Linked DNA regions of Homo sapiens. The protein of the gene in region 1 interacts with the protein of each later gene in a pairwise test. Each region holds a gene or a part of one and is shown in the gene's direction. Other genes may lie near its edges.

Region 1 (7,029 bases):
CTTCTGTTTTTAAATTTTTTATTCAAATTCTAAAATTATCTGAAGAGCTGGAATTAAGTTTATCAAGCAAGTAAGACAAAGAATCTCTTAAAGATGACTTCTTTAGCTTTAGAAGTAATCTTAAGGATTATTACTCATTTGGATGGGTTTGTGAGGAAAGATAAAGCAGCACCTCTGGAGATTTCTCAGTGAAAGATGGATTCTCATTGTTGAGGGAAGAGATTTGTGTGGCCTCCCTTTATGTCTATTACCTTAAAGATGGTGAATTCTGAAGGTTCCACTAACAATGTGATTCTTCAGGTCTCTTACTTGCCCTCCATGTTTTCAAAAAACATTTCAAACCCTCAATAGCAACATGTTATTAGAAAACATTGGAAAATGAATATAAACCTTCCAAAGAGAAATTGAGTTCCTACCAAAAAAGAAATAATCACCATGATCATGAAGTGAATATATACTTTTATGATTGGGACAAAAACATATGTTTGTCCTTGTTAGTCTGATTTTTTTTTTCCTCCTCTAATTATAGGCTGTGTGGTCTAGGGAATAAGAGAAAACTACCAAGGATTTTATTGGTATTATTGAAATAAGAATACACAATATACTTTCAAACTACTGAATTAAATTAGCTAAGCTTGATTTTTCTCTGCAAGAGACTGATTCCAAATTAGTGAGTTTTCTAAGACGCATGAACAGCAAGCAATATGTGAAATGAACTTTATATATTGTCTGGCTCCAGGGGCAGCCAGTGTTTCTAAATGATTCCTGTGGACCTTGGTTAAAATTTATACTGCAATGTCATATGCACCTAAAAATATACTGACTATGTCATGTCTTTCAGGGGACCTTGAAGGAAAAGTGAAGTGGCTGGACAATTTCCAAAAATTTAGATATCTACAGGAGATTATAGTGTGGCCACCGCTTTGGGATAGAGATAAAAGGTTTTTCATTCCAGAGGTACAAAAAAAAAATCAATTAGGACTTATGTCCATTTCTGGAATTTGGGCATTCAGATAGAAATACAATCATCTTAGATGTCCCCATCTGTCCACTTGAAGAATAAATCTAGTTTCATGAACAAGAAGTAAAGTCTTCATCTGTAGGGCATTGTATGCGGGGAGGCTGAGGTCGCTGTGCCATTCTTATGATGGTCCTTCTGAGAGGGTTTTTCATTGTTTCCCATTCCCATGTCCATCTGCTGGCATTTCCAAATGTCATGAACTTTCTAGATGGAGTTAATTGCCCCAGCTTTTTAAACATGTTCTCTTCCAATCACTAACAACATCTCTTTTATTTTCTCGCTTGTTTTACAAGTGTTTGAAACACATTTTTAAAGAACACATGGCAGAAAACATCTTGTCACCAACCAGCAGACACCTTCTCTATGAAGGAAAATTAACTCTTGCAGGTAAATAACTGCTTCCTTTAAAAAACCCAACATCTGTGCCGCCTTGTAACTTGTTTGACTGCCAGTAATTGAAGAGCAGGAGGACTTGTGTTTGCCTATGTTCCAGGTGATGGAGGGTGTGAATGAGAGAGTCCCTATGGAGTCACACAGACTCAGGCTTGAATGAAGACTTCGCAACATAACTAGCTAGGTGCTCTCTGTTTTCTCTCTGTAATGGGATAACTCTAACTATTCCATAGGATTGTTAAAACAACATACAAGAACAACTTCGCTCACGGTCTGGAATCTAGTAAATAGTCAATGGCAGCTGTTATCATCATAATCGTTGTACTCCCCCAATGAGCCAGACAATCAAGCTCTCAAATGTTTATGGAGACTCTATTATATTATATAGGACAAGTTGTGCTAGGTAGGTACTATTGGAAGATATAAAAACTCATTCTGTATAATTCTTTCCCTCTAGTTGGGAAGCTCTGCCTTATTACCAGACCTTCAGGATAAGTTCAGAAAAGAAGAGAGTCCTTGAGGCTGCAGTGCCCTGGAGAGGCTTCGTGCAGTCCATGGGACTGGAGGTGGGCTTGGAGGGGCAGGAAGGATGAGGTCAGTGGAAGGACAGGAGGGAGGTCATTCAGATAAATAGCACAGCTGGAGAAGTCTTGGAGGCAGAAGCCCCTGGAGAAACTTAGTTTCTAGCAGAGTACATAGGAAGCCAAGCCCCTGGGGCTGACTGCCTGGCTCACTCCCTGCTCAGCCTTTTCTGCCTGTACAACCTTGGGCCATTTACAGTGATCTCCTGTGCTTCAGTTTACCTTACTTTATTGTGAGGATTAAATGAACCAACGGATGTGTAAGCACTCAAAAGAATGATTGACACAAATTTCATGCCCAATAAATATCATGATGATCAGAAAGGCTGCCTGGCTGAAATAAGGTTTTAAATCATTTATTTATTCATTTCTGCACAAAATCTTGACCAGGCACTTACTGAGTGTGAAGTCCTGTGGGATGGGATGTTGCCTAACAGTGGTGATGTGATATCTGGTGGGGAGGGGCTGGGAAATAATCCCTTAATACATGTATATTGAAACTCTGCTCTATTTTAGAGGTAGTCTGGATGTCAGGTTAGGACATAATCCCCACCTGGCAGCTGTTAAATAAGGAAGATAGACATATCCAGCGTTTTATATCCAAGGGCTTTTTCATACATTGTCTCTTTCCAGTAAGTTAAATAGAGAAGTTGCTTTTAATCCCTTGTTATAGGTGAGAGATTTGGGGCTCAGGGAGGTTCTGTATCATGCCCAAGTTCACCTGGTGGGTAAATGACCGAGTACCAGCTGGAGCCTGGCTGCCTTGGTCCAGCTGGCTTCCAGAATCAGAGCAACTGCCTTGGAAACCAAACAGAAGGACCCAGCCAGGAAACTGCAGGCAACCAGAAGTCATTGAGCTCTCAGACAGGGAAGTGATAGGTTAAAAGGGTGTTGAAGAAAGCGTTGTTAATAAGCAGTGTTCAAAATGGCATAGAGGAGACCAAAGCAGAGTGGTGAAACCGGAAGTTCAGTGGTGAACACGGTGAGGTGAGAAGACTCGGGGCCTGTCTGTTGCTCTACCATTTTTAACATGTGGTCAACCCACCCCCCACTTTCATTTGAAAACATAACAATTTTAACTTTTCTTTAATGTTATTTACAACTTCAAAGTAATTATATTTTATGACAAGAACAAATCAAAGTAATAAAGCAAAACATTATCTGTGTTCCAGCATGTATCTTTACCTCCAAAATTAGCCCCACCTGAAATTATGTGAGGCTTTGGTTCACTCCTTCCCTCTTCCTACCTACCTCCCAATACTGCAAGATGCACCAGCTTCTCCTAACACATTAGAAATGGGCATGATAGAAAAGGATATGGGAGACATTGCAAAGGCAAAACCAGGAGGATTTTATGATCGACAAAGTGGATGAAGAGGAAATGAGTATCAAAAACTGTTCTAATCTATGTATCTGAAAGTTTTGTTGATAATGCCATGAGTGGTAGAGGGAGTGGGTCAAGGAGTCAATTTTAGGGTTCAGGTTTGGGCATAATGAGAACCCACATGGAAGCTGGAGGAGCAGCTCCTGGTGGGTGAAAGTCTAAGTCAGATGTGAATTCATGCATCGCATGGGTTCAAAGTGACTGTCATAGATGTATGGGTTGGAAGCTCACCTAAGAAAGACTCTTTACAAACAGACTCAACTTTTCCAGAAAATGCTTCTTGTACAGTCAAATGTGGTAGTATGGACATGAACTACATAATGTCACTAACACCAGGCACTTGTTTAATGGCATATGCTGTATTAGTCAAATTCCATCAGAGATGGAGACTCCATATGATGTAGTCTACATGGCATCAAGCCAAGTGCAAAGTCCTGAGACTGGACTCAGAGTTGAGCATCGAGATTTGATGGGGCAGGGTGATAGTGTTAGAAGAAACAGGACATTTCACTTCTTGGTCTTTTGGCTAAGATCAAGTGAGGAAACAGGACATCATTTTAAATGAAAAAAGCATTGAACCAACAGTCAGGGGATCTAGCACCAATTGTAGGCTTTGGGAAAATTTAAATTCTCTTATTCTCTTTTATAAATGTTATTGCTGCTGCTGATAATGATGATGACAATGAGGATGAAAATGATGTGATGAAACCTAACACATACTGTGTTTCCAAATTTCTCCCAGCCTTAAAAACTGTACTCTTATAATCAAATAAGTATATGTTCTCATTCCCAGAAGGTACACATTTTCATAATTTGTTTCATAACTTACTTGGTGGAAAACTAGGGCCTCAATAAATGGTAGATAAAATAATTACCACTTTCTAGAATAATGTCTGTAACATTATCTAGAATAACATCTGGAATACGTAGAAGGTGTGCTCCCTGCCTGTTTGTCAAAATAAAATAGTTGAAATTAGAAGGAGAAAACAAAACTATTTCATTTTGACAATGATCATTGAGCTGACGCATACATGAGTAGCAGAAGATGGGAATAGCAAATTTTACAGGTTTGAAGGTTGCTGTGGACTGAATTGTGTTCTTCCATTGCTGTGGACTGAATTGTGTTCTTCCACAAATCACATGTTGAAGCCTTAATGTCCAGTATGACTATACTTGGAATAAGGAAGAAATGCAGGTAAAATGAGGGACTCAGGCTGGAGCCTTGATCTGATAGGATTAGTATCCTAATCAGAGCAGACATCAGAGAGCTCACTCTCTCTGTTTGCCATGTAAGAACACATGCAGAAACCCAAAAAGAAAGCCCTTATCAGGAACTGAATCGACCAGCACCTTGATCTACTTCCCAGGCTCCAGAACTGTGAGAAATAAATTCCTATTGCTTAAGCCACCCTGTCTGTGGTATTTTGCTATGGCAGGCTCAGCTGGCTGTTCACAGGTCTAGTGCTGTACCATTCCTAGCCCTGTATATCAGTTGGCATATAGATTCAGCCACTGGAGACGGACAGGTTAAAAAAGATAGTTTATTTCTCTCTTGTTAAGTCTCAACCTATATGACAACTCCACTCCATGAAGTCATTAGGAATCCAGATTCCTGCTGTCTTATTCCCAAATCTAGGGAACTGCCTTCTTCTGTGTGGCCCAAGATGACTCACCAATATGTCTGTATTCTACCCAGTGAGAAGGAGAGACAGAGACAAGAGAGCTTAGCCCTGCCCTTCACGAATATGACTCAGAAGTTGCATGCTTTGGCTCACATTCCATTGGTCAGAATTTAGCTCCTTGGTCATATTCAGCAGCAAGGAAATGTAGTCTCTGTTCTCTGAGGATGGGTACTCACTAAAACTTGGGGATTCTACTGCTACAAGAGAAGGGGAGAATGGTTTTCAAGGGACAACCAGAAGTCTTTGCCACAACTTGATTTATGAAAAGTTAAGTTTTTAATATGATTTTTAAAAAAACTATTCAAGGACTATTTAATTTGAATAAAATACCAGATTTCTCCCCTATGCAAATATAGAAAAAATCTTTTCTCTAAACTTAAAGAATGAGAGGAGATAGAAATGAATCCTAAATGTTTTAGCTACTACTTTAAATCTTCTAGGGGTAAAAACATATAAGAAAGAACTTCTAGAACAATATATATATATAATCTAAATAGAACAAGCTGAAAAAAATTTACTGGGTTTTCCTATGATTACTCTAAGCACTTGTCACATCTCCCTCTAAAAACCTTTTCCTCTGAAATCACTTAAATTTAACCCTTTTTTCTAATTTCTAAGGGATAGAGTAAAATAAGGAAGGAGATGCCTTATTCTGATACTTGGTTTCTCTTCTACTACTATTCCCTTCTTAGGGAAAACTAAAGAAAAGCTATTTGCCTTAAGTAACTATTAAAACTAATATCAGAAAAGTTTGTAAATATGAAACAGATGGAGAATATCTAAACATTTATAGACACTTTCTAAAACTTGAGAAATAAGTAGTTTTAATGACTGTCAACCTAGGCCGCCATAACAAAATATCACAGACAGGCTGACTTAAACAGCAGAAATTTATGTCTTACAATCTGGAGGCTGAAAAGTCCCAGGCCAAGGTGATGGCAAATTCAGTTCCTGATGAGCGCTCTCTTCAAGACAAGGAGTGGGGGATAGGGTGGAGGTATCCGGTGTCTCAAAGAACACTAATGCTACTGGATCAGTGCACCAGCCTTATCACTTCATTTTACCCTAATTACTTTCTTACTCCAAATGCAGCCACCCTAGTGGTTTAGGGCTTCAACATATGAAATTTGAGTGACACAATAGCATAATTCATAGCAGTGAGAAAATGCCTTTTCTCTGGTTATGTGTGCCTTTGCCAATAACCACCCAGAGGAATCTAGAGGCAAAAATGCTGCAAGTTCAATCAGTTGATAGATTTACCCTCGGCTGAGTTGAAGCCACTACAAATAACATCTGAGTTATCTTAGATTCAAATGAGACGCATCATAAATTCAATGTCTTTAATGTTGGAAGCTTGGCCTCTCATCAAGTCTCTGCTTTAGGAAGAAATCAATTCAACATTGAGGCAGGCAGCTTTCTGACCTACATGATTGGAGCCCCTGGGGTGCCGTAATACTCACCCAGTTTTGTTTTCTAAGGAATTCATTGATTAAAAAAAAGAGAGAAAGAAAGAAAGAAGGAAGGAAGGAAGGAAGGAAAGAGAGAATGAAAAGAAAGAAAGAAAAAGAAAGAAAGAAAGAAGAAAGAAAGAAAGAAAGAAAGAAAGAAAGAAAGAAAGAAAGAAAGAAAGAAAGAAAGAAAGGGAAAGAAAAACTCTTCTACTTAACAGTTTCAGGTCCCCATTTCAGCTTCTCTTTTTTTCCTCAGAAAGCACGAGATTCCTAGATGTTTATCTGTTTCTCTTCAATGATTTCCTCTTAGTTACGAAAACTAAGTGCAACAAAAAGGTAAAATGCTGCTATTTCAAAGTACGTTTCTAAACAAGTTTGCTAAATGAGTTTAGAAATATTTCTAAATAAACTGTGGTAAAAATATAAAATATTCTTAAGCTGAATCTTTTCCTCTAAAAAATGAAGGCATTATAAACTATTGGCTTTTTTAGTCATAAAGCTCTGAAGTAAATAAATA
Region 2 (6,639 bases), on another chromosome or scaffold:
GTGAGGGTGCTTCTTACTGGAAGCAGGGTTGCCTCTGTGAGTGCCCGAATTAGTTTATGGATCCACTGAGGATTGTCCACTCAGGTGAGACAGTCAAGTTGCAAGTGGTTCATAACATTGTTTGTTTAAAACATACTCAGGTGAAACTACTCTGTAGGTGTTTGTGACAGGACAGAGCTGTTAGCCATTTCCCCATGGTTGGGGAAGGGTGTTAGCTTTGTTGACGTTTCTGTGGGTTTTGCCTCACTGTAACAATAGGGTTCAGCAGAATTACTGCTTGTGGTTTTTAAAGCATAAACAATGAGGTGATCCCCATTGATAAAATATTCACTATTTAGAATTTGGAACTGACAGAAAAGTGGACACTTGTCTATTTCCTTCCTTCTCTTTCCTTTGCTTTTGTGTTTGAGTGCACCTGCCTTACACCCAACTGTGCCTCTCCTTTTTTCAAACATTGTAATGAAGAATAAATACCCACTTTCTCTTAATACGATTGTGGTGGTTCTTTTCCCAGATTAAAGAGACTGGTGCTAACCTAGCAATTTGTCAGTGGGGCTTTGATGATGAAGCAAATCACTTACTTCTTCAGAACAACTTGCCTGCGGTTCGCTGGGTAGGAGGACCTGAAATTGAGGTAGGATGTTCCACGTGAAGAGACTTTGAGAAGTAGGGGTTCATCTTATGTGTTGAGGGGTGTTTTGATAGCCCTGCCTTAAATAACTGCATCACACCAAGGCTGGCAGATGAGGGGAGGGTGAGCTGGGAGAGAGGAAAGCGCTGGAATCTTTGTTACTGTTTGGATAACAGTGCTGTGTGTTTCTGGTGTTCCCTGGCATTTTGAAATTCTCTCCCTGTGTTGTCTCACTTGGCCCTGTCGTTGACTTACTAAGGCTGGAAGACCTGGTCTCATCCAAATACTAATGGCAGTCCCAGGCAACGGTGCCTCGGTGGTTCTCACTGCAGCGCAGTGCAAGGAACATGCAGGCTGGGTTCCCAGAGTGAGGGAGGGCTGCACAGATGGGAGATGAGGGTATGAGCTTAGGGGACGGGCGCCGGGTGATAGATCTGGGCAGCACCAAAGCCCCAATCAAGACGTCCAGCTCAAGAGCCTTGTTACCTAGCAAGGTGCTTTGGGTTGAACTGGAGATGTCTCGGTCAAAGTGGGGCAGCAGTTCTAGTGAACAAGTTGGTCTTAGATCAAGTTTTGCTCATTTGTGGCCCAGTTTTGAAAGTTAACTTCACCAGTACTGTCTTCATCCTTCTCCCTGACCACCCCAATTAGCTGATTGCCATCGCAACAGGAGGGCGGATCGTCCCCAGGTTCTCAGAGCTCACAGCCGAGAAGCTGGGCTTTGCTGGTCTTGTACAGGAGATCTCATTTGGGACAACTAAGGATAAAATGCTGGTCATCGAGCAGTGTAAGAACTCCAGAGCTGTAACCATTTTTATTAGAGGAGGAAATAAGATGGTGAGAATTCAACTATTTGTCCTATACTGTTGCTTATTTTGCTTCATGGTCTGGCTTTTTTGCCTGTGTGTATTTAACAGAGACACAGTCACCATAAGAAAAATAATCGTGGTTCTCAAACAATGACGTATCATGGTGTAAAATTACTGAAGACCATGTTAAATTGTTAATTTCACAAGGCACATTTGCCTTTCTGCTGTCCCTTAGAGTATACAATATACACTATGAGATTTTTATATCTTTTTAAATACTTAAACACAGTTTAAATATTCAAGTCCTGGATTTTAGAATGTTTGATACAGTTACATTAGGGGTTGGTTAAACTGCTAGCCCTAGCAACATAAGACTCATTTTAATTACAATATGGTATTATTACCAAGGATGACTTACATCTGTCCCTTAGGTAGAAAAAGGGAACCCAAGTGAATAACCATTGACGATCTCTGTTCTTTGAGAATGAGTTTTTAGCACATTGTGATAAATCTTTGCGAGTTTTGTCAGTTTTTGACTCTTGCTTGACCGTGTATCCTAGAATGAGTCACTGGCCGCCTCTGCCTCTTGAATTTTGTTAACTACATTGCAGGAAGGAAAGCTAGAAAGATAAATATTATCCGATAGTGGAGGCCATCTAAATATTAGAGCACAGCCTCTCTGTCTTTAAAAAGGTGCCAGATACTTGGCTCTAAATTGACTAGATCTTGATCACATTAATTCAGGCAAAGCTGTTTTCCTTAGATCATTGAGGAGGCGAAACGATCCCTTCACGATGCTTTGTGTGTCATCCGGAACCTCATCCGCGATAATCGTGTGGTGTATGGAGGAGGGGCTGCTGAGATATCCTGTGCCCTGGCAGTTAGCCAAGAGGCGGATAAGGTAAGGGATCTGTGCAGACTTAGTGAAAGATTCAGGCCTCGCTGATGGTGGAGACTGTGAAGCTGCGGAACAGCGAGGTGCTGGATGCAAAACAAGCATCGTGAGCTGTGTGTAGGTGACAGGTGTTTTAATCTAAGTTAATTCCCACGTTCCTGTATTCAGATTCTGGTTACCATAACCTAGCATTTCTCAGCTGTTTTCAGCCAGTTCGTCCTTGAAATAATAAATCTATAGTCTTTTAATGTTATTTGAAATTCAAAATTAATATTATAACTTAAAAATAAAGCCATAAGAGCTGCTGTATTTTGAGACATCTCTCACATGTATGTATACCCTCTGCCTGTATTCTGTGGTGACATTATAATATTCTGATAGATACAAAAATAAAGACAGCCTGTTCTTACAATTCTTTGTGAGCTGACTTTTCAAAGTATGTGATACAGTTGTGTTTTCACGGTGCCGCTGGGTTGTTTTGTTTCGCCAAGTGCACTCACCATACTTCTGTACCTTTCCAGTGCCCCACCTTAGAACAGTATGCCATGAGAGCGTTTGCCGACGCACTGGAGGTCATCCCCATGGCCCTCTCTGAAAACAGTGGCATGAATCCCATCCAGACTATGACCGAAGTCCGAGCCAGACAGGTGAAGGAGATGAACCCTGCTCTTGGCATCGACTGTTTGCACAAGGGGACAAATGGTGAGGAGCTGTCACGCCTCTGCGTGGAGGGGGGGGGATGTCTGATTTAAACTGAATAATCATCCACTGTATGTGCTGTGAGATGATGGTGTCTTTTTAAATATGTAAGCCCACTTCAGGTGTTCAAGTCCTGAATTTTAGAATGTTTGATTGCCGTAGGAATTGGTTAGACTACTAGACCTAGCAACATGAGACTCATTGTAATAACAGTAAAGTGCATATGGTACTATCACCAAAGATGACTTAGGTTTTAATCTCTGGTTTTTGGGAAGTAATGCCTTATTGCTGTTTTTACACAGATGTCTGTCAGTGGGCAGCATATATATAACAGCTCTGAAGTGGGCTTTAGTTCACAGTTCACTGTGTGGTTAATCCTGCACACTGTGGAGTGTTTTCTAAATGTAATATATAACCTCTGTAGCCACTTGTGTAGCTCGGCTCCCAAAAAGATATGGTGGCTGTAGCTTGTTGAAACAGTGGTCTCAGGCATTTCTGTACTAAATCAGGCCATGTCTGTAATCCATCCACAGAATGACAGCTTTTGCTTAAAGGTATAGGTACATTCTGCTTTCCATGCTCAAATTCCAAGGGTTTCAATAGTAGCAACTCTTTGTGAGGCAAACATTTAATGTTTCTAACTTGAATGCCTGGTTGTGCTCAAATTTAGCATTTCTAGGGCCGGGCGCAGTGACTCATGTCTGTAATCCCAGCACTTTAGGAGGCCAAGCCGGGTGGATCACCTGAGGTCAGGAGTTTGACACCAGCCTGACCAACATGGTGAAACACCATCTCTACAAAAAATACAAAATTAGCCAGGCCTGGTCAGGGCAGGCACCTGTAATCCCAGCTACTCGGGAGGCTGAGGCAGGAGAATCGCTTGAACCCGGGACGCAGAGGTTCCAGTGAGCTGAGATCGCACTGTTGTATTCCAGCCTGGGTGACACCTGTCTCCAAAAAAAAAATTAGCATTTCTAGATCTTTCTTGGAAATATCTTACATTTCAGCTGTGGTCAGATGGACTTACTTTAGATTTCCTAAGTTAGGGTATGGATACTTTGTGGGATAAGATGTTCCTGAAAAATGTCACCCTGTAGCTAGTCATTGAAGACAGTGCCCTCCCAACAGCTCTCTTTACCAGGTGCGAGTTCCAGAGTGTCCTTGGAAGTAATGAAATTACATTCATCTGAAAATGAAATATAACTGAAATTAGTGGCTTCCTGCTTGGCTTCCAGGAGTTTGTATTTCTTAAGTCTTACTGTGATTCCCTAAATCAGAAAGAGTTGGTTATTGATAGTTTATTGTATGCTATTTTAGGATAATCAGTGTCCTTGTATTTTTCAGATATGAAGCAACAGCATGTCATAGAAACCTTGATTGGCAAAAAGCAACAGATATCTCTTGCAACACAAATGGTTAGAATGATTTTGAAGATTGATGACATTCGTAAGCCTGGAGAATCTGAAGAATGAAGACATTGAGAAAACTATGTAGCAAGATCCACTTCTGTGATTAAGTAAATGGATGTCTCGTGATGCATCTACAGTTATTTATTGTTACATCCTTTTCCAGACACTGTAGATGCTATAATAAAAATAGCTGTTTGGTAACCATAGTTTCACTTGTTCAAAGCTGTGTAATCGTGGGGGTACCATCTCAACTGCTTTTGTATTCATTGTATTAAAAGAATCTGTTTAAACAACCTTTATCTTCTCTTCGGGTTTAAGAAACGTTTATTGTAACAGTAATTAAATGCTGCCTTAATTGAAGGGGTTTGGGTGGATTTTTTTTTCTCAAAATAAGCTGTAGGGACTATTTTAACAGCTTAAACAGGAGCTCTCAAGATGCACTTTCATATTGAGAGGAATATGGGCTTGATCCTCTTCCTATCTAAATGGGTGGGCCATTTGATTGTAGAGGGTCCACCACAGAATTATGGGATGCCTTAAGTGCTGTTACTAGGTTGCTCACAGCCTAACCTGGCGTGTTGTTTAGGGCTGATGGAGACCCATGTGAGCCTTTGCTTTCCTCTGGCCCCGGCCCCACCCTGAACACAGCTCATACACAGAATCAGGACCAGCATGTGCAGAGCTGGCCACCAGCACAGGCTTAGGGCAGTTCAGAACCCACTTGTTTCCCTATCAGAGGGACACAGTGAAGTGGAGGTTAAAGTAAATTACAGGAAATAAGGGAGAAATCTTGCAGTTACCATGTTCAGATAGAGTGACTGAAATTAATTGTACTTACTAAAGTATTAACTAGCTAACAGTGATGGGCCAAGACGCTCCGAGAACTCTACCGGGATTGTCTGTTCTGACAACCCAGTGAGGCAGATACACTTTCTTACTGCTCACATCTTACAGGTGAGTACTCATAATTGGCCAGCATCTCACCACCAGCAAGTAGTAGGGCCAGGTCAATCCCAGGCAGTCTGACCCCAGAGTGGCCCAGCTCATCCCCTACTCTGTTATTTGCTTGTTAATGATTCTCTAGATTTTCTAAAATAATGTTTCTTAGCATTGTGATGATAAAGCTCATGATGAACTTTATCACTAGTTATGCCACCTTAACTAGTCAGATTTCCTAGAATTAGGAAATGGTGACTCTTGTCTAAATTTGGTTAAGTGATGAATTTGGGTTACCGTCTCATGTGAACCTGGAGATTCACCAGTCTTAACTTTTGGGTCATTGTGTTTTCTCTACATTCATGCATTGGATGTTTTGCTAAATAACTCCTGTGGATTTAGGAATGTGTGCTAATAGCAATCTTCCTAATTTTCATGTTTATATGGAACTATGCAGTTGAGTATTGAAAGCTTTAAACTGAGTTTATTTACAAGGACTGAGTCTAGCCTACAGAGAACATACAGCAGCCTTCTTTGGACCACAGTCTTATCCGAGGGGTCTGTGGTTGTATCAGAAGAGCCACTAAACCAATCCCCCTTTCCAAAATTGAACCTCACAGACGTTCCTGTTTTTTGTGATTGAGAAACTGGTCAATGAACAGGAAGACTTAGAGATGTTTCACAAGCCTTTGATTTTTGTTTCATTTATTTGTAATAAACCTCTTCCACGTGATGTCTTTTATTTTTCACGTTCCAGATCACTCAAGTTTTATTTTGCTGGTACTTTGGCCACACCCTCTCCTTCCCCATGTGGAGCAAAAGCAACTTAGGGTGCTTGACCCAAAGGCTAGATTCCCATGTAAGTCCCCATGTATTACTGCTGGTTCCCGATTTCTACACCTGCTAGATTCATTGGAGGTTTGTTAAATGTCCTGTTTTTAATTTCAGCCTACTCAATTTCTATGTGGGGGCAGTTCCAGGATGTCCTGTAGGTGCCAGATTTCATGGACGCTCAAGTCCCTGATAAAAATCGTGGTATTTGCATATAACATACATCCTCCTGTATACTTTAAATCATCTCTATTATTCATAATATCTAATATAAATGATATGTAAGTGTCATACTGTATTTAGGGAGTAATGACAAGAAAAAATCTACATGTTCAGTACAGATGCAATTTTTTTCTCTGAATGTTCTCAACCTGAGGTTGGTTGAATTCAGATGAGGGTCAACTCTGCAAGCAGCCGCTGTGAGGCACA
Region 3 (7,029 bases), on another chromosome or scaffold:
TGTTACATATAGCCAATATTCATTCAGATTCACCATGTATCTACCATTTTCATTCCTCTTCATTCCTCCCTGTACAAACTTCAATCTAGATTTGTTTTTTCTCTACCTAAAGAATACCTTTTAGTATTTTCTATAATGCAGATCTGTTGATGGTGAATTCTTTTAATTACTGTTTGTCTGAACATGTCTCTATTTTGCCTTCATTCTGGAAGGATCTTTTTGCTCCATATAGAATTCGCCATTGACAATTCTTTTTCTTTAGCACTGTAAAGATATTCCATTGTCTCCATTGTCTACTGGCTTCCATTATTTTTGTTGAGATGTAAACTGTGAGTTCCATTGTTGCTTATTTGGAGATAATATGTATTTTGTTCTAGAGGCTTTTTTTTTTTAATGGAGTTTCTCTATTGTCGCCCAGTCTAGAGTGTGATGGAATGATCTTGGCTCACTGCAACGATCTTGGCTCACTGCAACGATCTTGGCTCACTGCAACCTCCGCCTCCCGGGTTCAAGTGATTCTCCTGCCTCAGCCCCCCGAGTAGCTGGGATTACAGGTTCCTGCCACCATGCCCAGCTAATTTTTGCATTTTTAGTAGAGATGGGGTTTCACCATGTTGGCCAGACTGGTCTCAAACTCCTGACCTCAGGTAATCCACCCACCTCGGCCTCCCAAAGTGCTGGGATTACAGGCAGGAGCCACCACACCCAGCCTGTTCTAGAGGCTTTTAACGATATTTTTTCCTGTTTAGTTTACAAGATGTCTTTGATTTATAGCAGTTTAATTCTCATCTGCCTCAGTGAGGATTTCTTTTTGTTTATTTTTCCTGTTTGGGGCTAGGCCTTCTTGAAACTGTCTTATTATCCTTCTTCAGTTTGGGAAAATTCTTAGCCATTACCTCCTCAAGTATTAACTTCTGCCCTATTATCTCCCTCTCTTCCTCCTCCTAGGATTCAAATTATGTGTCTGTTAGCCCCTCTCAATGTATCCTATGTGTCTCTTACCCTCTCCTCCATATTGACCATCTTTTTGTCTCTATGTTCACTCTGTGGAGTCTCTTCTAAAGCTCTAATTAGAGAATCCAGTTCCTGAATTCTTTCTTAATCCATGTCTATTCAACTGGAAAGCTCATTGCATTCTTGATTTCAGTGGTGTATATTTTAATTCTACAATTCTCATAGACCTTTTTTAATTAATTAATTATTATTATTATTATTATTTATTTTTTTTTTTTTTAGAGACAGAGTCTCACTCTGTTGTCCAGGCTGGAGTGCAGTCTTGTGATCATAGCTCACTGCAACCTCTAACTCCTGGGCTCAAGATCCTCCTGCCTCAGCCTCCTGAGTAGTTGGGACTACAGGCACGCATCACCACACTAGGCTATTTTTTTTTAAATTTCTGTAGAAACGGGGTCTCATTTTGTTGCCCAGACTGGTCTGAAACTCCTGGCCTCAAGTGATCCTCCCTGTCTCAGCCTCCCAAAGTACTGAGATTACAGGCATGAGCCACCATGCCTGGCTTCATGGATCTTTTAAAAACAGATTCTAGTTTCCTATCAAAATTCTCAAGCTGTCTTTAATCTTCTTAATTATTGTAAGCATAGTCTTTGTAAAGTCTATATGTATGACTCTATATGAGAAGCCCTGGTGCATCCTTTTTTAAGATCTGATATTTTGCTAGTGCTTATACAAGCTATCTGGTCTCCTCATGACCACCACCCCCCTTTTTTAAATTGAATGCTTTTATTTGCAAAATTGTGAAAGTAATTCAAGACCTTAATCCAGTTTTAGGGACTCAGATGAGTCAATCTGAGCTTCAGACCTTGAAAGGCCTGTTGGCTTGTGGTTCACTGTCTCCTCTAAGGGACAGTGCTTTGGGGTCACAACTCAAAAGAATGGGGCTCACCAGAGAACACCCTCCCTTGGTGTATCCTGAACTCCATTACCTGTTCCCTATGCTCTTAACACTATCAAAAGCCCACTTGGTTTCCCAACTGCTCCACTTTGGAATGTTCAAGTGCCTTCAGGAGAAAACAGGCCCCCAACACCAGCTTCACCTCTCTGGGCCATCATCTTTTCCTGATCCAACCCAGGAAGTGTGTGTGTGTGTGTGTGTGTGTGTGTGTGTGTGTGTGTGTGTGTGACGGAGTTTCACTCTGTCGCCCAGGCTGGAGTGAAGTGGCATGATCTCGGTTCACTGCAGCCTCCGCCTCCCGGGTTCAAGCGATTCTCTTGCCTCAGCCTCCTGAGTAGCTGGGATTATAGGCGCCTGCCACCACACCTGGCTAATTTTTGTATTTTTAGTAGGGACAGGGTTTCACCATGCTGGCCAGGCTGGTCTCAGAGTAAAGTGGCACGATCTTGGCTCACTGCAACCTTCGTCCCCCGGACTCAAACGATTCTCCTGCCTCAGCCTCCTGAGTAGCTGGGATTATAGGGGCCCACCACCACACCTGGCTAAGTTTTGTATTTTTAGTAGAGATGGGGTTTTGCCATGGTAGCCAGGCTGGTCTCAAACTCCTGACCTCAGGTGATCCACGCGCCTTGGCCTCCCAAAGTGCTGGGATTACAGGCATGAGCCACCGCGCCTGGCCTTTTTACTATCTTATTTGCTGTCCAGTACTATAAGAAAAAAAGTTTAAACATTTTGTCCAGAGTTTTTAAATTTATTTGTTTGCTTATATTTTTGTTCAGAGTTTTTAGTTGTCCTCAGAAGGAGGGTTGGTCCAAATTACCTAGTCTACTACATCTAGAAAGGACATTGGAAATTGACTTTTTTTTTTTTTTTTTGAGACGGAGTCTCACTCTGTGGCCCAGGCTGGATCGCCCAGTGGCACGATCTCGGCTCGCTGCAACATCTGCCTCCTGGGTTCAAGTGATTCTAGTGTTTCAGCCTCCCAAGTAGCTGGGATTACAGGTGCCCGCCACCACGCATGGCTAATTTTTTTTTTTTATTTTTAGTGGAGACGGGGTTTCCCCATGTTGGCCAGGCTGGTCTTGAACTCCTGACCTCAAATGATCCACCCACCTTGGTGTCCCAAAGTGCTGGGATTACAGGCATGAGCCACTGTGCCCAGCCACCAAGCATCCTTTTAGGGGCTGGGGACTCAGTGATAAACACACTGTGCCTGCTTCTTGGAACTCACAGTCTCACTCTGATCCATGTTTAGTCCTGTCCTGTATGATAATAGCAGTTGTCCATTGAGCTCATAAAATCTAAGACCGCGCTGGGCTTGTGAGCCACCTGCAGAGCCTAGCTTGGTGCTGAAAGCTAAGTGGGTGCTCTGTCATTACTGGGGTTCGATTGACTGGTTCTAACAGAGACCAGCTATAGAGCTAACACTTGATGGAATATTTTGAATATTGATGACCTTTTCACTGGCTTCTGCCTATGGCAAGTAGAGGTACAACCCAAAGAGAAGAGCCTCATTTATAGTGTGTGGCTGGGGGAGAGGGAGGTTTGCAAACTGAGTCATTTTCCCCCATTCAGCCTGTGTGTGTCTGTGTGAGTTCATACCTGTGTGTGTGCATAAAATCAAACAAGAATAAAATGTTTTCATTTGTTCCCTTCCTTCTTCCTCTCTCTGTCTCTCCCTGTTTCCACAGGTCAGCGTTGAAGTTTTGGTAGAGTATCCTTTTTTTGTGTTTGGACAGGGCTGGTCATCCTGCTGTCCGGAGAGAACCAGCCAGCTCTTTGATTTGCCGTGTTCCAAACTCTCAGTTGGGGATGTCTGCATCTCGCTTACCCTCAAGAACCTGAAGAACGGCTCTGTTAAAAAGGGCCAGCCCGTGGATCCCGCCAGCGTCCTGCTGAAGCACTCAAAGGCCGACGGCCTGGCGGGCAGCAGACACAGGTATGCCGAGCAGGAAAACGGAATCAACCAGGGGAGTGCCCAGATGCTCTCTGAGAATGGCGAACTGAAGTTTCCAGAGAAAATGGGATTGCCTGCAGCGCCCTTCCTCACCAAAATAGAACCCAGCAAGCCCGCGGCAACGAGGAAGAGGAGGTGGTCGGCGCCAGAGAGCCGCAAACTGGAGAAGTCAGAAGACGAACCACCTTTGACTCTTCCTAAGCCTTCTCTAATTCCTCAGGAGGTTAAGATTTGCATTGAAGGCCGGTCTAATGTAGGCAAGTAGAGGCAGCGTGGGGGAAAGGAAACGTGGCTCTCCCTTATCATTTGTATCCAGATTACTGTACTGTAGGCTAAAATAACACAGTATTTACATGTTATCTTCTTAATTTTAGGTTTCTGTTCTAACCTTGTCATTAGAGTTACAGCAGGTGTGTCGCAGGAGACTGGTGCATATGCTTTTTCCACGAGTGTCTGTCAGTGAGCGGGCGGGAGGAAGGGCACAGCAGGAGCGGTCAGGGCTCCAGGCATCCCCGGGGAAGAAAGGAACGGGGCTTCACAGTGCCTGCCTTCTCTAGCGGCACAGAAGCAGCCGGGGGCGCTGACTCCCGCTAGTGTCAGGAGAAAAGTCCCGTGGGAAGGGTCCTGCAGGGGTGCAGGGTTGCACGCATGTGGGGGTGCACAGGCGCTGTGGCGGCGAGTGAGGGTCTCTTTTTCTCTGCCTCCCTCTGCCTCACTCTCTTGCTATCGGCATGGGCCGGGGGGGTTCAGAGCAGTGTCCTCCTGGGGTTCCCACGTGCAAAATCAACATCAGGAACCCAGCTTCAGGGCATCGCGGAGACGCGTCAGATGGCAGATTTGGAAAGTTAACCATTTAAAAGAACATTTTTCTCTCCAACATATTTTACAATAAAAGCAACTTTTAATTGTATAGATATATATTTCCCCCTATGGGGCCTGACTGCACTGATATATATTTTTTTTAAAGAGCAACTGCCACATGCGGGATTTCATTTCTGCTTTTTACTAGTGCAGCGATGTCACCAGGGTGTTGTGGTGGACAGGGAAGCCCCTGCTGTCATGGCCCCACATGGGGTAAGGGGGGTTGGGGGTGGGGGAGAGGGAGAGAGCGAACACCCACGCTGGTTTCTGTGCAGTGTTAGGAAAACCAATCAGGTTATTGCATTGACTTCACTCCCAAGAGGTAGATGCAAACTGCCCTTCAGTGAGAGCAACAGAAGCTCTTCACGTTGAGTTTGCGAAATCTTTTTGTCTTTGAACTCTAGTACTGTTTATAGTTCATGACTATGGACAACTCGGGTGCCACTTTTTTTTTTTTTCAGATTCCAGTGTGACATGAGGAATTAGATTTTGAAGATGAGCATATATTACTATCTTTAAGCATTTAAAAATACTGTTCACACTTTATTACCAAGCATCTTGGTCTCTCATTCAACAAGTACTGTATCTCACTTTAAACTCTTTGGGGAAAAAACAAAAACAAAAAAAACTAAGTTGCTTTCTTTTTTTCAACACTGTAACTACATTTCAGCTCTGCAGAATTGCTGAAGAGCAAGATATTGAAAGTTTCAATGTGGTTTAAAGGGATGAATGTGAATTATGAACTAGTATGTGACAATAAATGACCACCAAGTACTACCTGACGGGAGGCACTTTTCACTTTGATGTCTGAGAATCAGTTCAAGGCATATGCAGAGTTGGCAGAGAAACTGAGAGAAAAGGGATGGAGAAGAGAATACTCATTTTTGTCCAGTGTTTTTCTTTTTAAGATGAACTTTTAAAGAACCTTGCGATTTGCACATATTGAGTTTATAACTTGTGTGATATTCCTGCAGTTTTTATCCAATAACATTGTGGGAAAGGTTTGGGGGACTGAACGAGCATAAATAAATGTAGCAAAATTTCTTTCTAACCTGCCTAAACTCTAGGCCATTTTATAAGGTTATGTTCCTTTGAAAATTCATTTTGGTCTTTTTACCACATCTGTCACAAAAAGCCAGGTCTTAGCGGGCTCTTAGAAACTCTGAGAATTTTCTTCAGATTCATTGAGAGAGTTTTCCATAAAGACATTTATATATGTGAGCAAGATTTTTTTTAAACAATTACTTTATTATTGTTGTTATTAATGTTATTTTCAGAATGGCTTTTTTTTTTCTATTCAAAATCAAATCGAGATTTAATGTTTGGTACAAACCCAGAAAGGGTATTTCATAGTTTTTAAACCTTTCATTCCCAGAGATCCGAAATATCATTTGTGGGTTTTGAATGCATCTTTAAAGTGCTTTAAAAAAAAGTTTTATAAGTAGGGAGAAATTTTTAAATATTCTTACTTGGATGGCTGCAACTAAACTGAACAAATACCTGACTTTTCTTTTACCCCATTGAAAATAGTACTTTCTTCGTTTCACAAATTAAAAAAAAAATCTGGTATCAACCCACATTTTGGCTGTCTAGTATTCATTTACATTTAGGGTTCACCAGGACTAATGATTTTTATAAACCGTTTTCTGGGGTGTACCAAAAACATTTGAATAGGTTTAGAATAGCTAGAATAGTTCCTTGACTTTCCTCGAATTTCATTACCCTCTCAGCATGCTTGCAGAGAGCTGGGTGGGCTCATTCTTGCAGTCATACTGCTTATTTAGTGCTGTATTTTTTAAACGTTTCTGTTCAGAGAACTTGCTTAATCTTCCATATATTCTGCTCAGGGCACTTGCAATTATTAGGTTTTGTTTTTCTTTTTGTTTTTTAGCCTTTGATGGTAAGAGGAATACGGGCTGCCACATAGACTTTGTTCTCATTAATATCACTATTTACAACTCATGTGGACTCAGAAAAACACACACCACCTTTTGGCTTACTTCGAGTATTGAATTGACTGGATCCACTAAACCAACACTAAGATGGGAAAACACACATGGTTTGGAGCAATAGGAACATCATCATAATTTTTGTGGTTCTATTTCAGGTATAGGAATTATAAAATAATTGGTTCTTTCTAAACACTTGTCCCATTTCATTCTCTTGCTTTTTTAGCATGTGCAATACTTTCTGTGCCAATAGAGTCTGACCAGTGTGCTATATAGTTAAAGCTCATTCCCTTTTGGCTTTTTCCTTGTTTGGTTGATCTTCCCCATTCTGGCCAGAGCAGGGCTGGAGG

Evidence for each region. The genes of interacting proteins can lie anywhere in the genome.
Region 2: the proteins of PLEKHG7 (region 1) and CCT5 interact in binary tests that used the Homo sapiens proteins (3 or more experiments, as listed by UniProt).
Region 3: the proteins of PLEKHG7 (region 1) and ATXN1 interact in binary tests that used the Homo sapiens proteins (3 or more experiments, as listed by UniProt).

Annotation. Positions count from the first base shown.
Region 1 is NC_000012.12:92,754,984-92,762,012, forward strand, and holds part of PLEKHG7 (pleckstrin homology domain-containing family G member 7), read left to right. Parts: intron 1-841; coding exon 842-957; intron 958-1,314; coding exon 1,315-1,408; intron 1,409-6,768; coding exon 6,769-6,848; intron 6,849-7,029.
Region 2 is NC_000005.10:10,260,278-10,266,916, forward strand, and holds the end of CCT5 (T-complex protein 1 subunit epsilon), read left to right. Parts: intron 1-514; coding exon 515-634; intron 635-1,282; coding exon 1,283-1,468; intron 1,469-2,203; coding exon 2,204-2,341; intron 2,342-2,856; coding exon 2,857-3,037; intron 3,038-4,378; coding exon 4,379-4,506; 3' UTR 4,507-6,112; downstream 6,113-6,639. UniProt on the Homo sapiens protein: Component of the chaperonin-containing T-complex (TRiC), a molecular chaperone complex that assists the folding of actin, tubulin and other proteins upon ATP hydrolysis.
Region 3 is NC_000006.12:16,303,434-16,310,462, reverse strand, and holds part of ATXN1 (ataxin-1), read left to right. Parts: intron 1-3,603; coding exon 3,604-4,134; 3' UTR 4,135-7,029. UniProt on the Homo sapiens protein: Chromatin-binding factor that repress Notch signaling in the absence of Notch intracellular domain by acting as a CBF1 corepressor. Binds to the HEY promoter and might assist, along with NCOR2, RBPJ-mediated repression. Binds RNA in vitro.